Regions from separate parts of the Homo sapiens genome. Here region 2 is linked to region 1. A link means that fine-mapping ties the variant in region 1 to the expression of a gene that starts in the linked region. Tissue or cell type: whole blood. Region 1 holds a variant in brackets; the other region holds the start of a gene. All regions are shown on one strand. Distances are from middle to middle.

Region 1 (8,183 bases):
TGGGGGAGTCAGCCCCCCGCCAGGCGAGACGCCCCGTCCGGGAGGGAGGTGGGGGGGGTCAGCCCCCCGCGCGGCCAGCTGCTCAGTCCGGGAGGGAGGTGGGGGGGTCAGCCCCCCGCCCGGCCAGCCGCCCCGTCCGGGAGGGAGGTGGGGGGTCAGCCCCCCGCGCGGCCAGCTGCTCAGTCCGGGAGGGAGGTGGGGGGGTCAGCCCCCCGCCCGGCCAGCCGCCCCGTCCGGGAGGTGAGGGGCGCCTCTGCCCAGCCGCCCCTACTGGGAAGTGAGGACCCCCTCTGCCCGGCCACCACCCCGTCTGGGAGGTGTACCCAACAGCTCATTGAGAACGGGCCATGATGACAATGGCGGTTTTGTGGAATAGAAAAGGGGGAAAGGTGGGGAAAAGATTGAGAAATCGGATGGTTGCCGTGTCTGTGTAGAAAGAAGTAGACATGGGAGACTTTTCATTTTGTTCTGTACTAGGAAAAATTCTTCTGCCTTGGGATCCTGTTGATCTATGACCTTACCCCCAACCCCGTGCTCTCTGAAACATGTGCTGTGTCCACTCAGGGTTAAATGGATTAAGGGCGGTGCAAGATGTGCTTTGTTAAACAGATGCTTGAAGGCAGCATGCTGGTTAAGAGTCATCACCATTCCCTAATCTCAAGTACCCAGGGACACACACACTCTGCCTAGGAAAACCAGAGACCTTTGTTCACTTGTTTATCTGCTGACCTTCCCTCCGCTATTGTCCTGTGACCCTGCCAAATCCCCCTCTGTGAGAAACACCCAAGAATGATCAATTAAAAAAAAAAAAAAAAAGAAACCATTATGATCCATCATGTGGACTCTGCAGTGGTATCTTAACTGGACTGTTTGCTTTCTTTTTGCCTTCCCAGAATCCCCTAGAATGAAAGCTCCGTGAGGGCAAGGGCTTTAACTGTCTTACTCATCTCTGTGTCCACAGTGCCCAGAACACTATCTGGTACAGAGTGGATACTCATTAAATATTTGTCATATGTATAAAGATTGAATGAATCACTTCTTTAGTTGGAATTTATAACATAAATCAGATTATGCTCTTTCTTGCTGTGACATAATAAAAAAATACGTATTTGGTAAAAAAAAAAAAAAAAAAAATTACAGAGAAGTTGCAAAGATAATATAGAGAATTCCTATATACCCCTCACCTAGTTTTCCCTAATGTTAACATATGAGATTACCATGGTATATTTGTGAAAATTAAAAAACCAATATTGGTATGTTACTATTCACTAAACTCCAGACCTCATTCAAATTTCATCAGTTTTTCTACTCATGCCCCTTTTCTGTTCCAAGATCCAATCCAGGACACCATATTGCATTTATTCATCCTGTCCCTTTAGTCTCCTCTGGTCTGTGATAGTTTCCCAGTCTTGTTTTGTTTTCATAGCCCTGACGGTTTTGAGGAGTACTATCCAGCATTTTGTAGAATGTTTCTCAGTTTGCATTTGTCTGGTATGTTTCTCAGGACTAGACTGGGCTTATGGGATTTCGAGAAGAATAGCACAAGTAATATACTCTTATTACTGATAATGTTAACCATGATCACTTGGTTAAGGTGGTATTTCCAGGTTTCTCCATCACACAGTTACCATTTTTCCCACTTCCATATTCTGTTATTTGGAAGTGAGCCACAAAGTCCAGCCTACCCTCAAAGGGGTTGGGGAGAAGAAGTAAACTTCTTTTTGCAAGGTGGAGAGCATAGCTACTTATGTTATTTGAAATTCTTCTATAAGGAAATTTGTCCCTTTTCTGTCATTTATTTTTCAATCATTTTCTCTCTGTAAATATGGCCTCATCTATACTTATTTACACTTTGGGTTACAATCCAATACCACATTATTTATTTTGGTTCCCAAATTGGTCTGGCTTTGGCCATTGGAAACTCCTCAGAGTTGGCTGTGGTATCCCTCTGACTTTTTTTTTTTCTTGAGTACTTCCTTGCCTTCTGGTCTATCAGGTGCTCTGGGCTCATCTTGCATTTTCCTTGCCTTGAAATAGCTTCAGTCATTTTTTCAAGAAGCCCTGGTTTTTTAAAATCAGAGAATGGTATTTAGAAACCATTCTTGGTTTAGAAACCAAGATCTGGGCACTGGATGTGCTTGTTTTATTGGGTGTCACTGCTCTTGGATCTCTTAGCAGAGGGTTAGAATAATATGTATGTGTATACTAATCCATTTAGACACACATTTATTTCTAAAGTTATTTCTGTATTTACTCATCTGTGGGTGTGTGTATATGCACACACACACACATAAATATGAATTCATACTAATTTCTGTGTGTGCGTATGTGTGTGTGTGTGTGTGTGTGTGTGTATGTATTTTGAGACAGAGTCACACTCTGTCGCCAGGCTGGAATGCAATGGCACAATCATAGCTCACTGCAGCCTCAAACTCCTGGGCTAAATCAGTCCTCCTGCCTAAACCTCCCAAGTAGCTAGGACTACAGGTACATGCCACAATGCCTAGCTAATGTTTTAAATTTTTTGTAGAGATGGGGTCTCTCTATGTTGCCTAGCCTGGTCTCAAACTCCTGGCCTCAAGGAATCCTCCCACCTAAGCCTCCCAAAGTGCTGAGATTACAGGCGTGAGCCACTGTGCCCAGCCTGTGTGGATATTTTTTAATTAATTCATTGTTCTAGGTTCCTGGTAAGACCTTTCAATGCAGAAACTTGTGACTTTGTGTTAGGGAAGCAGGAGCCTAGAAGAGCCAAATTAAAAGTTCAGCTCCATCTGGAGACTAACAGGGCACATTCCTTGCCAGTCACTACCCATGATTACAGATGTTTATAGTTGAGGAAAGACCATAAAGACACCTACGAGGACGCACTCCTCCGTCAGAGAGTTCAGATGTCCCAGTACCCATAAAAACACATGCTTTCAAGATAATAACAGTTATGGCAGGGTATGGTGGCTCACACCTGTAATCCCAGCACTTTGGGAGGCTGAGGAGGGCAGATCACTTGAGGTCAGGAGTTTGAGACCAACCTGGCCAACATGGTGAAACCTTGTCTCTACTAAAAATACAAAAATCAGCTTGGCATGGTGGCATGCACCTGTAATCCCAGGTACTCGGAAGGCTGAGGCGGGAGAATCGTTTGAATCTGGGAGGCAGAGGTTGCAGTGAGCCGAGATTGCACCACTGCACTCCAGCCTGGGCGACAGAGCAGGACTCCATCTCAAAGATAAAAAAAGAGAAGAAAGATAATAACAGTTATGCTCTGATGGACTCACACACTGAAATGTCAAAGAGGCCGGGCATGGTGGCTCAAGCCTGTAATCTCAGCACTTTGGGAGGCCGAGGCGGGCAGATCACGAGGTCAGATCGAAACCATCCTGGCTAACACGGTGAAACCCCATCTTTACTAAAAATACAAAAAATTAGCCGGACGTGGTGGCGGGCGCCTGTAGTCCCAGCTACTCGGGAGGCTGAGGCAGGAGAATGGCGTGAACCCGGGAGGCGGAGCTTGCAGTGAGCCGAGATTGCGCCAGTGCACTCCAGCCTGGGCGACAGAGCGAGACTCCGTCTCAAAAAAAAAAAAAGAAAAACTCTGTGTGTGTGTGTGTGTGTGTGTGTGTGTGTGTGTGTGTGTGTGTGTACCCTCGTGTGCTCGCACAAACGAACAGAGCTAGAGTTAAAGGAATTCCAAGGACAATTTGCTGGGTAAAATTCAAGACTGATTAATTTTCCACAGGGCAATAAAATCATTGTATTTAACCACACAACCAGGCTATAAAAACATAGAACCTATTAGTCTCTAAAGTTAAACTATACCAGGCTATAAAAACATAGAACCTATTAGTCTCTAAAGTTAAACTGTAACTTTATAGAACCATAAAACTGTCTGTTTCTTCAATCATTATGGATTGATTACATACATTGTGGCAATGGAATTTCATTCCCCTGGTGTGTCCCATGAGGGTAAATTCCCAGGATGCAGGTTCTGCTTTTATTGAAACAGGGTTTGAAAAAGTGTTCCCCTAAGATCTCAGGAATTAGGCAATCATAATTTTGCCATTTTCCCAAGTGTGGAATCATTTCCTCTTTAATACCTGTGTCAGGTGAGAATGTCTGAAATATGTGTTTTGTTTGGTTTTTTGAGACAGGGTCTCACTCTGTTGCCCAGGCTGGAGTGCAGCAGC[G/A]TGTTCATGGCTCACTGCAGCCTTGACCTCTCAGGCACAAGCTATCATCCCATCTCAGCCTCCTGAGTAGCTGGGACCACAGGTGTGTGCCACCACGCCTGGCTCATTTTTGTAATTTTTTTTTTTTTTTTGGTAGAGATGGGGTTTCACCATGTTGTCCAGGCTGGTCTCAAACTCCCAAGCTCAAGCAATCCACCTGCCTCAGCCTCCCAAAATACTGAGATTACAGGCCTGAGCCACCATGCCTGGCCTAGAACATCTGAAATATTTATTCTCGACATCACTAGCTCAATCTTGTTTCAATGTCTGTTCTTTTTGTCCTTGTGAGTTTTGTCCTTTTTATTTTTTAACTGTTATTTTAGTGAGGTTTGGAGAGGACGTAGGCCCAAATGCATGGACTCAATTCCCCACTTTTAAAAAATTTTTATTTTATATTATTTTTTGGTAGAGACAGGGTCTCACTATGTTGCCCAGGCTGGTCTTAAACTTCTGGCCTCAATCAATCCTTCTGCCTCAGCCTCCCAAATTGTTAGGATTACAGGTGTGAGCCAACAAGCCTGGCCCAGTTCTGCTTTTTTGATCCCACATTTCCTCCTGCTCTCTATTGTCCAGGACTTTCATCAAATGCCTGGCCTTTTGGCTTTTCAGTTTCCTGATGCTGCTGTAGATGTATTACTTTCCCTCTTTCATGTCTTTTCTACATTTCACCAGGAGTGTTCAGCAAGAGTGACAGTGTGCACTTGTGTGCTTTATACACTCCCTTGATCCAGGTCTTTTCCTGACTATATCAACACTTGGTTCCAAATAGCAAAGAGCTCTCCATCTTTGGGGATAGAAGCAAACTGTTCCTATTACTCAGAAAAACCATTGCTGTAATGTTGCAAGAATTAATAGGTATCTTGTCTGCTATAGTCTTCCCAAGGCAGGAAAAAAACCATAAGCATCTCCTTTCCAGCCCTGACCTCTCCATTTCTTCCTCACCCCCTTCCACCTCCAGAAGATGCATCTTCGTTTGCTGGCATTCTGGCCTTCTTTGCCTCAGAGGATGCCCTTGTCAAGTTCTAGCTGTATTGCCTGGTGGGTGTGAAACCACTCTTAACATAAACTCCTCAGCTGGTCCTTGGCAAGGGCTTTTCCTCAACTTTTCAGATTTAGTGGGTGTTTCAGATTTTAGTTTAGTGGTAGTTATATATGCAGAATCCCAGGCCCCACTGGAGGAGAGGGAGAAGGTGGCTTGCAATCTACATTTTTATGGAGGCCCTCATGTCAAAATCTGGGACAATCTCAGCCTCATATGAATAATGCAGGAATGGATTATTATATATTGAATCAAAAGGAATCCATGTGTCTCTATTGATATTAACACCAAAAATTTTGGCCTGTGCTCACACCTGTAATCGCAGCACTTTGGGAGGCCAAAGCAGGAGTATCAGTTGAGCCCAAGAGTTCGAGGTTACAGTGAGCTATGATCATGTCACTGTACTTCAACCTGGGTAACAGAGAGAGACTCTGTCTCAAAACAACAACCACCACAATAAATAAATAAAACAACCAACAATGGTATTTTATTTTATTATTATTTTTCTTAATAGAGACAAGATCCTGCTATGTTGCCCAGGCTGGTCTCGAACTTATGGGCTCAAGCAATCCTCCCACCTCAGCCTCCCAAAATGTTGGGATTACAGGCGTGAGCCACTGCACCTGGCCAACACCAAAAATTTTAAAGGGGGTAGAAAAGAGGGCCAGGTGAGGTGGCTCACACCCGTAATCCCAGCACTTTGGGAGGCTGAGGTGGGTGGATCACTTGAGGTCAGGAGTTCAAGACCAGCCTGGCCAACATGGCAAAAACCCATCTCTACTAAAAATACAAAAATTAGCCAGGCGTCCTGATGCCCATCTGTAATCACAGCCACTTGGGAGGCTGAGGCAGGAGAATTGCTTGAACTTGGAAGTCAGAGGTTGCAGTGAACCAAGATGGCATCACTGCACTCCAGACTGGGCAAGAAAGTGAGACTCCATCTCAAAAAAAAAAAAGAAAAGAAAGCTCTTCTTCATAAAAGAATGCCAAATTGTGAATGTAGATGGAATGATAGAAATGGAAAAATCATCATTTTATGACCAGTCTATTAATAATTGATTCAGGCAGGCATCATCAATGGAATGTAAAACTATTAGGATAAAGGGGGTTGGGAAAAATGATATTCATAAGGTTTGAATGTATCACCCTACAGGCTGTTTAGTAATCGCAAAAGGGAAAACGTATCTTTACCACAGAGAGAGCTGAAGGTCACCACGTTGACCATCAGATTACACTTAGCATCACCATCAACGTGAAAATTGACTGGTGTGTTGCACTGAGAAGACACAACATCACTTAATGTTTCTACCAATAATCTAAACCCAGATTTATTTTTAAGAAAATCAGGTTGGCCAGGTGCGGTGCCTTATGCCTGTAATCCCAGCTACCTGGGGAGGCAGGAGAACCGCTTGAACCCATGAGGCAGAGGTTGCAGTGAGCCGAGGTTGCGCCACTACACTCCAGTCTGGGCCACAGAGCGAGACTCCGTCTCAAAAAAAAAAAGAAAGAAAGAAAGAAAGAAAATCAGGCCGTTATGATGTCATCTTGATTTTAAATACAAAGGCTTAGTCAGTGCACATGATCAACACTTTGAACTTTCAGTTCCCTTCTACCACAGCCTCCTATATGTTCTAGAAGTGTCTAAGGGAGACTCTTGTGCAGTGCTCTCAGAATCTTCCATTCTCCCTCTGGAAATGTCACCTGCCAGGCCTCTGTTGTATGAAAAGAGTTAGCATGGCCTCTTATGTTTTTGCAAAGTGCTTCCAATGCCAAGGTTACTCTATGCTGAAATATGCCTTGAAGCCACTTTCTTACATTATGATCCCAAAGGGACCACTTTAGACTTCCAGCATCTCACCAAGATTTTTATGTGACCATCATCCAGTTTATGTCATTAGTCCTTAGGACTGAGAAGTGGGTCCAGGGTGGCTTACAGGGGAAAGTGGCTTAGTCAGTATTGTCTTGCTGGTCTTGCTCTCTGGGGCATGGGATTCTTATTCCAAGCACCCATCCAGTCACGTAGCTCACGCTGGAACTCTCATCAGCCCATTGATATCTTGGAGTTTAACACAAGGAAGTATTGCACAAGACAAGCCAGAGACCCATGGACATAATGGCTGCCAAAGCAGAGAAGGGGAGGTGACAGATTTAGGAGACAGCAGCCGCCCTCACCCTCACTGTCCTCTCTGTTCCTCCTCTTTCCTTGGAAAACAGGCCTTCCTGGGGACCTCCTGCTCCCCTCAGTTATCCAGACTCTACCTGTCTTTTGTTTATACTAATGATAGCATGCTAGGTACAGTGTTCTCCATCTTGCTTTTTTCATTTAATATTTTTTTTTTTGAGACAGGATCTTGTTCTGTCACCAGGGCTGGGGTGCAATGGCACCAACACAACCCACTGTAGCCTCGACCTCCCAGGCTCAAGCAATTCTCTTGCCTCAACCTCCTGAGCAGCTGGGATTATAGGTATGTGACACCATGCCCAGCTATTTTTTAAAAAATTTTTTGTAGAGACAGGGTCTTGTTATGTTGATGAGGCTGGTCTTGAACTCCTGGGCTCAAGCAATCCATGTGCCTTGGCCTCCCAAAGTACTGGGATTACAGGTGTGAGCCACTACACTCAGCTCAACATTTTTTATATGTACAATTTGTTCATATCCTTTATCTTTGTCTTTTATATCTTTAAGAGAACTCTTTACCACCTTTTTAGTGAGGTTTCTGGAGAGGGTGGAAATGAGTATTTTCTATCCACCACAAGGTTTCCTTGGAGTTTACAAGTATATGTTGATATCCCCTGAAAATCTAGATAATTTTGTCTCCTCTTTTCCAATTCCATACTTCAAATCTTTAAAGATTTAAAGACTAGGTGTAGTGGCTCACACCTGTAATTCCAACTCTGTGAGAGGATCACTTGAGCCCAGGAGG
Region 2 (8,183 bases), 29 kb after region 1:
AGAGCTGCAAATGGATTTTCTCTCCTTTAATAAATGTACACTCTTCAGAAAATTTGTCATAAAATTCACTCTTGCAATTTGGCATTTGTGGATTCACATATACACAAATAAAGAAATAGATAACACAATCGATTTTCAACAAGGGTACCAAGACAATTCAATGGGGAAAAAAATAGTCTGTTCAACAAATGGTGCTGAGACAAGTGAATAGCCACATGGAAAAGAATCAAGTTGGATCCCTGCCTCACATCATATAGAAAAATTAATTTGGAATTAATCAAAGATCTAAAATGTAAGAGCCAAAATTATTAAACTCTTAGAAGAAAATGTAAGAGGTACGTCTTCATGACTTTGGATTAGGCAATAGTTTCCTAGTTATGACACATAGAGCACAAGCAACAAAAGAAAAAAATTGATAAACTGGATATCATTAAAATTTTAAAGTTTTGTGTTTCAAACAACAATATCAAGAATGTGAAAAGACAACCCACAGAATGGGATAAAATTTTTGCAAATTGTATTTCTGATAAGGTACTTATATCTAGACTATATAAAGAGCTACCACAACATAATAAAAGGACAAGTAACCAAGTAAAAATGGTCAAAAAATTCGAGCAGACATTCCTCCAAAGAAGAGGTATAGGCCAGGCACGGCGGCTCATGCCTGTAATCCCAGCACTTTGTGAGGCTGAGGTGGGCAGATCACCTGAGGTCGGGAGTTTGAGATCAGCCTGACCAACATGGAGAAACCCCGTCTCTACTAAAAATACAAAATTAGCTGGGCGCGGTGGCGCATGCCTGTAATCCCAGCTACTCGGGAGGCTGAGGCAGGAGAATCGCTTGAACCCGGGAGGCAGAGGTTGCGTTGAGCTGAGATCATGCCATTGCACTCCAGCCTGGGCAACAAGAGTGAAACTCCGTCTCAAAAAAAAAAAAAAAAAAAAAAAAAGGAGGAGGTCCAAATGGCTAATAAGCACATGAAGAGATGCTTGACATCATTAGCTATCAGGAAATATAAGCCAAAACCACAATGAGATACCACTTCATACCCTCTAAAATGGCTATAGTGAAAAAGATAATGAGTATTAGGGAAGATATGGAAAAATTAGAACCCACATATGATGCTGGTGAGAATATAAATGGTGCAGCCACTTTGGAAAACCGTTTGGCAGTTCCTCAAAAGGTTAAACGTAGAGTTACCATGTGATCCAGAAACCCACTCCTAGATCGCCAAGGAAACAAACTGTGTGTCCACAAAAAAACTTGTACACAAATGTTAATAATAGCATTAGCTACAAAACATAGCAAAACAGTGGAAACAATCTGACTGTTCATTAACAGATAAATGGATAAGCAAGATGTGGTATATCCATTCAATGTAATAATATTCAACCATGAAAAGGAACAAAATTCTGATACATGCTGCAACATGGATGAACCTTATAAACATTATGCTAAATGGAAGAAGCCAGTCATGAAAAACCATATATTGAATGATGCTGATAACATGAAATGTCCAGAATAGGCAAATTAAAAGGTTAGTGGTTGCCTAGGGCTGGGGTGGTTGGGAAGAAATGGAGGAATGACTGCTAATAGGTACAGGATTTTCCTGTTGGAGTGATAAAAATGTTCTAAAATTGATTGTGGTGGTGGTTGCACAAATCTGTGCCTATACTCATTGATTTTTTTTTTTTTTTTTGAGACAGGGTCTCACTCAGTCCCCCATGCTGGAGTGCAGTGGCCTGATCTTAACTCACTGCATCCTAGACCTCCCAGGCTCAAGCGATCCTCCCATCTCAGTCTCCTGAATAGCTGCGACTACAGACACATGCCACTATGCCTGGCCAATTTGTGTGTGTGTGCATATATGAAATATATTTGTATACATAAATTATAATATAAATATATATTTTTATAAATAAACTATATATATATAGAGAGAGAGAGACAGAGAGATGAGGTTTTGCCACGTTGCCCAGGCTGGTCTCAAACTCTTGGGCTCAAGAAATCCACTTGTCTTAGTCTCCCAAATTGCTGGGACTGCAGGCGTGCACCACCACGTGTAGCCCCGTTGAATTGTTTTTAGAGCTGATTTTCAGAGCTTTTGCACCGATGGGAAGTTATCTCTAAATAATGGTGGTTACTTGTTCATGACTCTGGACTTGAGCTAAAAAATTGATCACTGCAAGCATAGAAAGAATTGAAAGAGTTGTATTTGATAAATCTCATGACGGTGTCATAGCGTCTGTCATAAGTCCAAACTCATACCAAATAGTAACTGGGAATTGAATCTTGAGCTGTGAACTTTGAACTCGGACAAAACAATAAATTGAACTCAATATCTGATGCAAAAAAAAAGTGAATTTCTTCTCTGCTTGCAAGGGAGAGCGGTACTTGTAAGGTACAGCCTCTCTGAACAAAGCCAGAGCTGATCTTATAAAAGGTTTTGAAGGCCGGGCGCGGCTCACGCCTGTAATACCAGCACTTTGGGAGGCCAAGGCTGGCGATTCACTTGAGGCCAGGAGTTCAAGACCAGCCTGGCCAACATGGCGAAACTCTGTCTCTACTAAAAATACAAAAAATTAGCCAGGCTTGGTGGCACAGGCCTGTAATCCCAGCTACTTGGGAAGCTGAGGCACAAGAATCGCTTGAACCAGGAGGCAGAGGTTGCAGTGATCTGAGATCACGCCACTGCACTCCAGCCTGAGCAACAGAGTGCGACTCTGTCTCCAAAAAAAAAGGAGAAAAAGAAAAAAAAGGCCGGGCGCGATGGCTCAGGCCTGTAATCCCAGCACTTTGGGAGGCCAAGGCAGGCGGATCAACTGAGGTCAGGAGTTTGAGACCAGTCTGGCCAACATGGCAAAACCCGTCTCTACTAAAAATACAAAAATGAGCCAGGCGTGGTGGCGGGAGCCTGTAATCCCAGCTACTCGGTAGGCTGAGGTAGGAGAATCGCTTGAACCGGGAGGCAGAGGTTGCAGTGAGCCGAGATCGCGCCACTGCACTCCAGCCTGGGCGACAGAATGAGACTCAGTCTGGGAAAGAAAAAAAAATGGTTTTGGAAATATTCGCCTTCAGGGATTGGCTGTCTTTCCGAATCAGAAGTGGAGTGCGGCAGCTGAGTACCCACTGACTTTCGGAAGCCTGGTCGCTGGTGTCAGGCACTTGTTGATTGGCTATTGTCGGAGGCTTAGAGCGGTCACTGATTGGCTGACTTTCAGAAGCGTGGGGTTGTCATTGATTTACTAAGAAGCATAGTTACCGGAGTGAGGCTATCGCTGATTGGCTGATTTTCAGAGCTGCTGCACCGACGAGAAGTTATCTCTAAATAATGGTGGTTATTTGTTCACGACTCCGGACTTGAGCTAAAAAAGTATTTTCCTTTCTTGAATATGAAAGACGAGCACTTTAAATTCCTACTCCCTTCTGGTCTTCCCTCAGCCAAACCTGAAGGAGACACCATAGGGATTGTCCAAATCTTCATTAGTGTAGGAAGGATTTTCAGCCAGTGTTGTAATTTAAGTGATCTAGCACCAATTACTGTGGGAGAAAAATAGCTCTAATTATTGCAATTTAGTGTAAAAAGATGAATACAGGACATTTAAGGCATTCCGACGAGGTCAACGAAGGACGCAGGCCAATAATCATTAAATACGTCCTGTATATACAGGACTCCTGGCAACTATCAGTGCAGTATTTCCCAAGTTTCTTGTACATGTCCCTGCAGAAACCGGTAGAGCTAGGATCTTAACAGTAAAGGTTAGGGGTCTTCTGGGATCCTGTGCGCCTCTAACGCTCATGCCCTGCGCAGGGCTGGGTGCGCACTGCTGCGCTAACCCGAGGCCGGCTAGGAATCTATTGGATGTTTGAAGGGTGGGTGCGGAATTGATGACCAGGAAGCGGGAAGACACCGTTCCGGAGAACAGGGAAGCGAGCCGGGTACTGGGGAGGTGCGCTGGGTACTGGGGAGGTGCGCTGGATCCTGACGCCGGAGCGGAAGACTTCGCTGGAGGCCGGGGCTGGTCGGGCGGGGCGGGGCGGGCAGAGGCGGAGGGGCGGGGCCGGGCTGGGAGAGGCTCCGCCCCCGGGCGCGTCCGTGTGCGTGGCCGGGGGGCGCCGCGCAGAGCCCCGCTCTATGATGCCGGGCTTGAGGACGAGGCCGGGCGGCGCTGTGGCAACCCTCACCCTGCGGACACGCGCTCCCAACATCCGGTCCGGCGGCCTCGCAGCTTAAGAAGTGGGGTCCCTGTGGCCGTGCGCCGACCCCCAACTCCAGCCGCTCCCAACGCCCCCATCCGCTCTCGGTGCGCGCGCCCCCTCCACGCCCCCGCCCCCGCCCCCGCCGGGCCCGCGCGCCGCGCCCCCTCCCACCCGGCACGCCCTGCCGCCCCGCCCGGCCGCAGCTAGCGTGGAGCCGCCCTGCGGGCAACTGAGACCCTCGCAGCTGCACCGTCCTCCTCCGCCGCCAGTCGTCCGCCGCCATGGACGTGTACCCCCCGCGCCGGCAGGGGCTGCCCCGCGCTCGGTCCCCTGGCGGCTCCAGCCGCGGGTCACCCTCCGTCAGGTACGCGGGGCAGAGGCAGCCGAGGGGCGGCCGGGCGGGGGATGCGGGCTGTCGGGGTCCGGCGACGCCTCCCGCCGCAGGGCGTGGTCCGACATGGCTTCCTCGGGACGGTTCTTTGCTGAACGGCTCAGGGAGGAATTTTTCCCAGGAACGGCGCCCTCTGTAGAGGCCCCACAATGGCTCCCCTTTGGACAACCCCGCAACGGTTTCCCCACAATGGCTCCCCCACAGACAACCCTGCAACGGTTTCCCCACAATGGCTTCCCTAGGGACAGCGATTCCCTGTGAAGACACTGTTATGACGTCCTCACCCCCATAGAACGTTTCTCCCAGGAAGGATTCTTCTACACAGAACCCCACAGAGGCTTCCCTATGAATAACTCACTCGCCTTCCCCAGGGAATGTTTCCCTCAGAAACTGCTACTCTACAGACCTCACACCTCCACACACACAATAGCTCCCTCGTGTAGAACCCCCAAATGGATTACCTAGAAAGCCCCCTCCCGTGGGTCTCTAGAGCCTTTGCCCTTGACAACGGCTTCCTTAAAGAGTGTCCCCCGCCCCCTACGTACATAATGACAGCATCTCCCCTGTCGCGCGTTTCCCCAGCTCCCCCTGCCTCAGCCTGCATCGCGACGCCCCCTCACTCCACAATAGGGAGCTCGGGTTGGGAGGAAGTAGAGGTATTAGGGACGCAGGAGGAAAAACTGGATAAATAGGGGAAAGAGGCCTAGAACCTCCGAAAGCGGCGGACGCCAGGCCCCTTACCGTAGAGACACAGTCCCAAGCTACCTCAGTATGGGGAGGGGGTGATCGTGGGGAGCGTTCCCCGCCCCCTTTAGATATAGGAAGATCCGTTTCCGATTTCTGTGCCCTATGCGTTTGGTGCTGATCTTGTTGGTCTGGGCATTGTTTGTGATGGAGCTGGTGTGGGGCGCCGGCGCAGTGTGGAGGTTGGAATGATGGAGGGGTTGCAGCAGAGACCTTTGAGAAGGAGAGGGAGAGGGGGAATGCGAGCGATGAGCTTTGGTACTGCTAAACTGTCATTAAAACAGGAGAGGGTTTTGTTGTTGTTTGCTTTTTCTTATTCTAGCCACATAGCAAAGCAAATATATTGTTCCCTTGAAAGGAGGTTGCCAATCTACATGTTAAAACAGTTTTCTTATATTCTTGTTATGGTACTTAAGGCATATGTTTTAACTTTGCTTGCTGATCTGATTTTTGGGGTTGTTTGTTTGCTTTAACTAGACCAAATTATTGGAGAACAAGAAACTGATTCTTAGAAACCTGTTTCTTTTTTACTTCCCTGCATTCCTTTCCACAACCCAGAATCCAGTATATGTTTGTTGAACAAATAAAGGATAGAGAAGGTGGGGGGTAGATACCAATGAAACATTGCATTTAGGAGTCCTAAATTGCTTCGAATCTGTCAGGTGACATTTTTGAACTCCTGCTCTGCCCTTCAGTGTAATTCCTTGTGGGCTTTACAGTTCCAAGTTTAACTGCTTATAGTAACGCATCTCCAATCCTTTGCAACATTTCTGCCAGTTTCACTGTCTGAAGCAGAAAGTATTTGAACTTGTATAGACATTGCATAGGATACTTTAGAACAGCCATCCGTTAAATCTAGGCTCTGTGTGGACTTGAGGTTTATCCCAGATCATCTTGAGCTTAGGAATTTGGATTTGAGTCTGTTGAGATCTTTAGGGGGAAAAAAATCATCTCTACCTTAGAATCTGTCTCTTAAATGCTGCCTTTCTTGTTTTTAGTAGCATGGCCATGTGCTTTTTATTTATTCTTTTAAAGGTAGTGATTCTATGTTCAAAGAAGTATGCTGGCTCACTTTACTGATCATACCCGAACTCCAAATCTTCTATCAAGTGGTTTGAATAAAATTTGATTTCAGACAAGGAATAGTGCAAGGAACCCCAAGGCCTAGCTGCCCCCAATACCTTTGGTGAAAGAAATTTGCTGAAGGCTTCCCTCCTTTCCCCACTTCTACATGATTGAACGTGCTTTTCTTGCCCATTCAAGCCTTTCCCTTACTCTTGACATTGAATGTTACTAGCACTTTCCTGTCACCCATATATGGCTTTGCTGCTGACTGCTGAGTGATGGAAGGGGCAAACCTAACTGGTGAAGTGACATTCCTAAGACCCATAGATAGTACTCTGCAAGTGTATGGTTCTAGCACGGTAGTTCATTTTCACAGATGGAGAATGGAGATCAAGAATTAAAATATTGTTACTCAGAATGAGAGGCTTCTCTTTAAGCATGTGATAGTCATCAGTCTTACCAGGTATTTTTGGTTTCTGTCTCTTGAGCATGTAGTAGAATTTTACTTGCTTGCTTCTTTGAAGTTAGGTATGGCCTTAAGAGTTGCTTTTGGTCAGTGAAATGCGTGGGAATACTGTGTAGCCTTTCATGGTACAAATTTCTGTTGTGTAGTTTTCCATTCTCTTTCCTTCTGTCATGGTAGCTGTTGGGGCTGCAAATGGCAGCCACCCATCAGTCAAGGCCCCAGAGCTAGCTTCCAGGTGACCTATGCTTGACAGGTAGGTTGAGCAAGAAGTGAAACACCACCGGGATTTTGGACTTATTACCAAGGTATAAACTAACCTATCTGGATCAATGCTAAGGAACCAGTGGAAATCTAGCTGAAAGATACTTTCTACTTCAAAATGTTTTTCTGTAGAGCGATCTGTTCCTGCTTGAAACTTCTTTAATAGTTTAAATTTCACTGTTTATTTATATAAATTATGCAACAAGTACTCTGTTAGGTGCTGTAGAGTCAGATAAATACAGCAGTCCCCTGCCCTCAAATAACTCTTTTGTAAAGGGGAAGAGACAGTAACAGTAGAAATCATAATATAGAATAGTGAGTCATAAGTACTGAGGAAGAAATACGGCCGAAAGAACAATAATACAAGAAGGCCTAGTCGGTTTTTGCCTCAGCTATTGAAAGAATGGAGTTGCCATTTATTAGTATTAAGAACACTAGAAGAAGAAAAGGCAGTGTAGCAGTGTCTTCCAAGTTCTGAGAGAAAATGGTTTCCTACCTCTGAGGTGGGAGAATAATTGAGAACAGACATTGAAAGCCGAATGAGATTGTTGACAGTGTGATGAGAACTAGTAATCAGGCTGGGCACGGTGGCTCACGCCTGTAATCCCAGCACTTTGAGAGGCCAAGGTGGGTGGATCACCTGAGGTCAGGAGTTTGAGACCAGCCTGACCAACATGGTGAAACCCCACCTCTACTAAAAATACACACAAAAAAATTAGCTGGGCATGGTGGCAGGCACCTGTAGTCCCAGCTACTCGGGAGCCTGAGGCAGGAGAATCACCTGAACCTGGGAGGTGGAGGTTGCAGTGAGCCAAGATCTTGCCATTGCACTCCAGTGTGGGCAACAAGAGTGAAACTCCATCTCAAGAAAACAAAAGGACTAATAATAGACAATTAGATTCGATAATGTGGAGGGTCACTAGTGACCTTGACAAGAACAGTTTTGGTGCAGTGGGTTCAAGAGAAAATGAAGCCAGTCACCTGTAGGTCAGCTACTCGGAAGGCTGAGGTGGGAGGATCCCTTGAGTCCAGGAATTCAAGTCCAGTCTGGGCAAC

What was found. PIP is the estimated chance that this variant, and not a neighbour inherited with it, causes the effect.
Region 2: it holds the start of DNAAF9, and the variant in region 1 is fine-mapped to the expression of DNAAF9 in whole blood (TOPMed, PIP above 0.99).

The regions. Positions count from the first base shown.
Region 1 is chr20:3,433,087-3,441,269 of GRCh38, reverse strand. No RefSeq gene overlaps it. Among named protein-coding and RNA genes, the nearest start is that of DNAAF9, 30 kb to the right of the region's middle. The variant G/A (reference allele first, on the strand shown) is at 4,182.
Region 2 is chr20:3,403,856-3,412,038 of GRCh38, reverse strand. DNAAF9 (dynein axonemal assembly factor 9) reads left to right here and starts at 4,370. Exons shown (of 37, transcript NM_001009984.3): 1 at 4,370-4,564. The coding sequence starts at 4,482. RefSeq lists enhancers at 2,969-3,470, 3,847-4,046 and silencers at 4,037-4,286, 4,327-4,566, 4,627-4,706.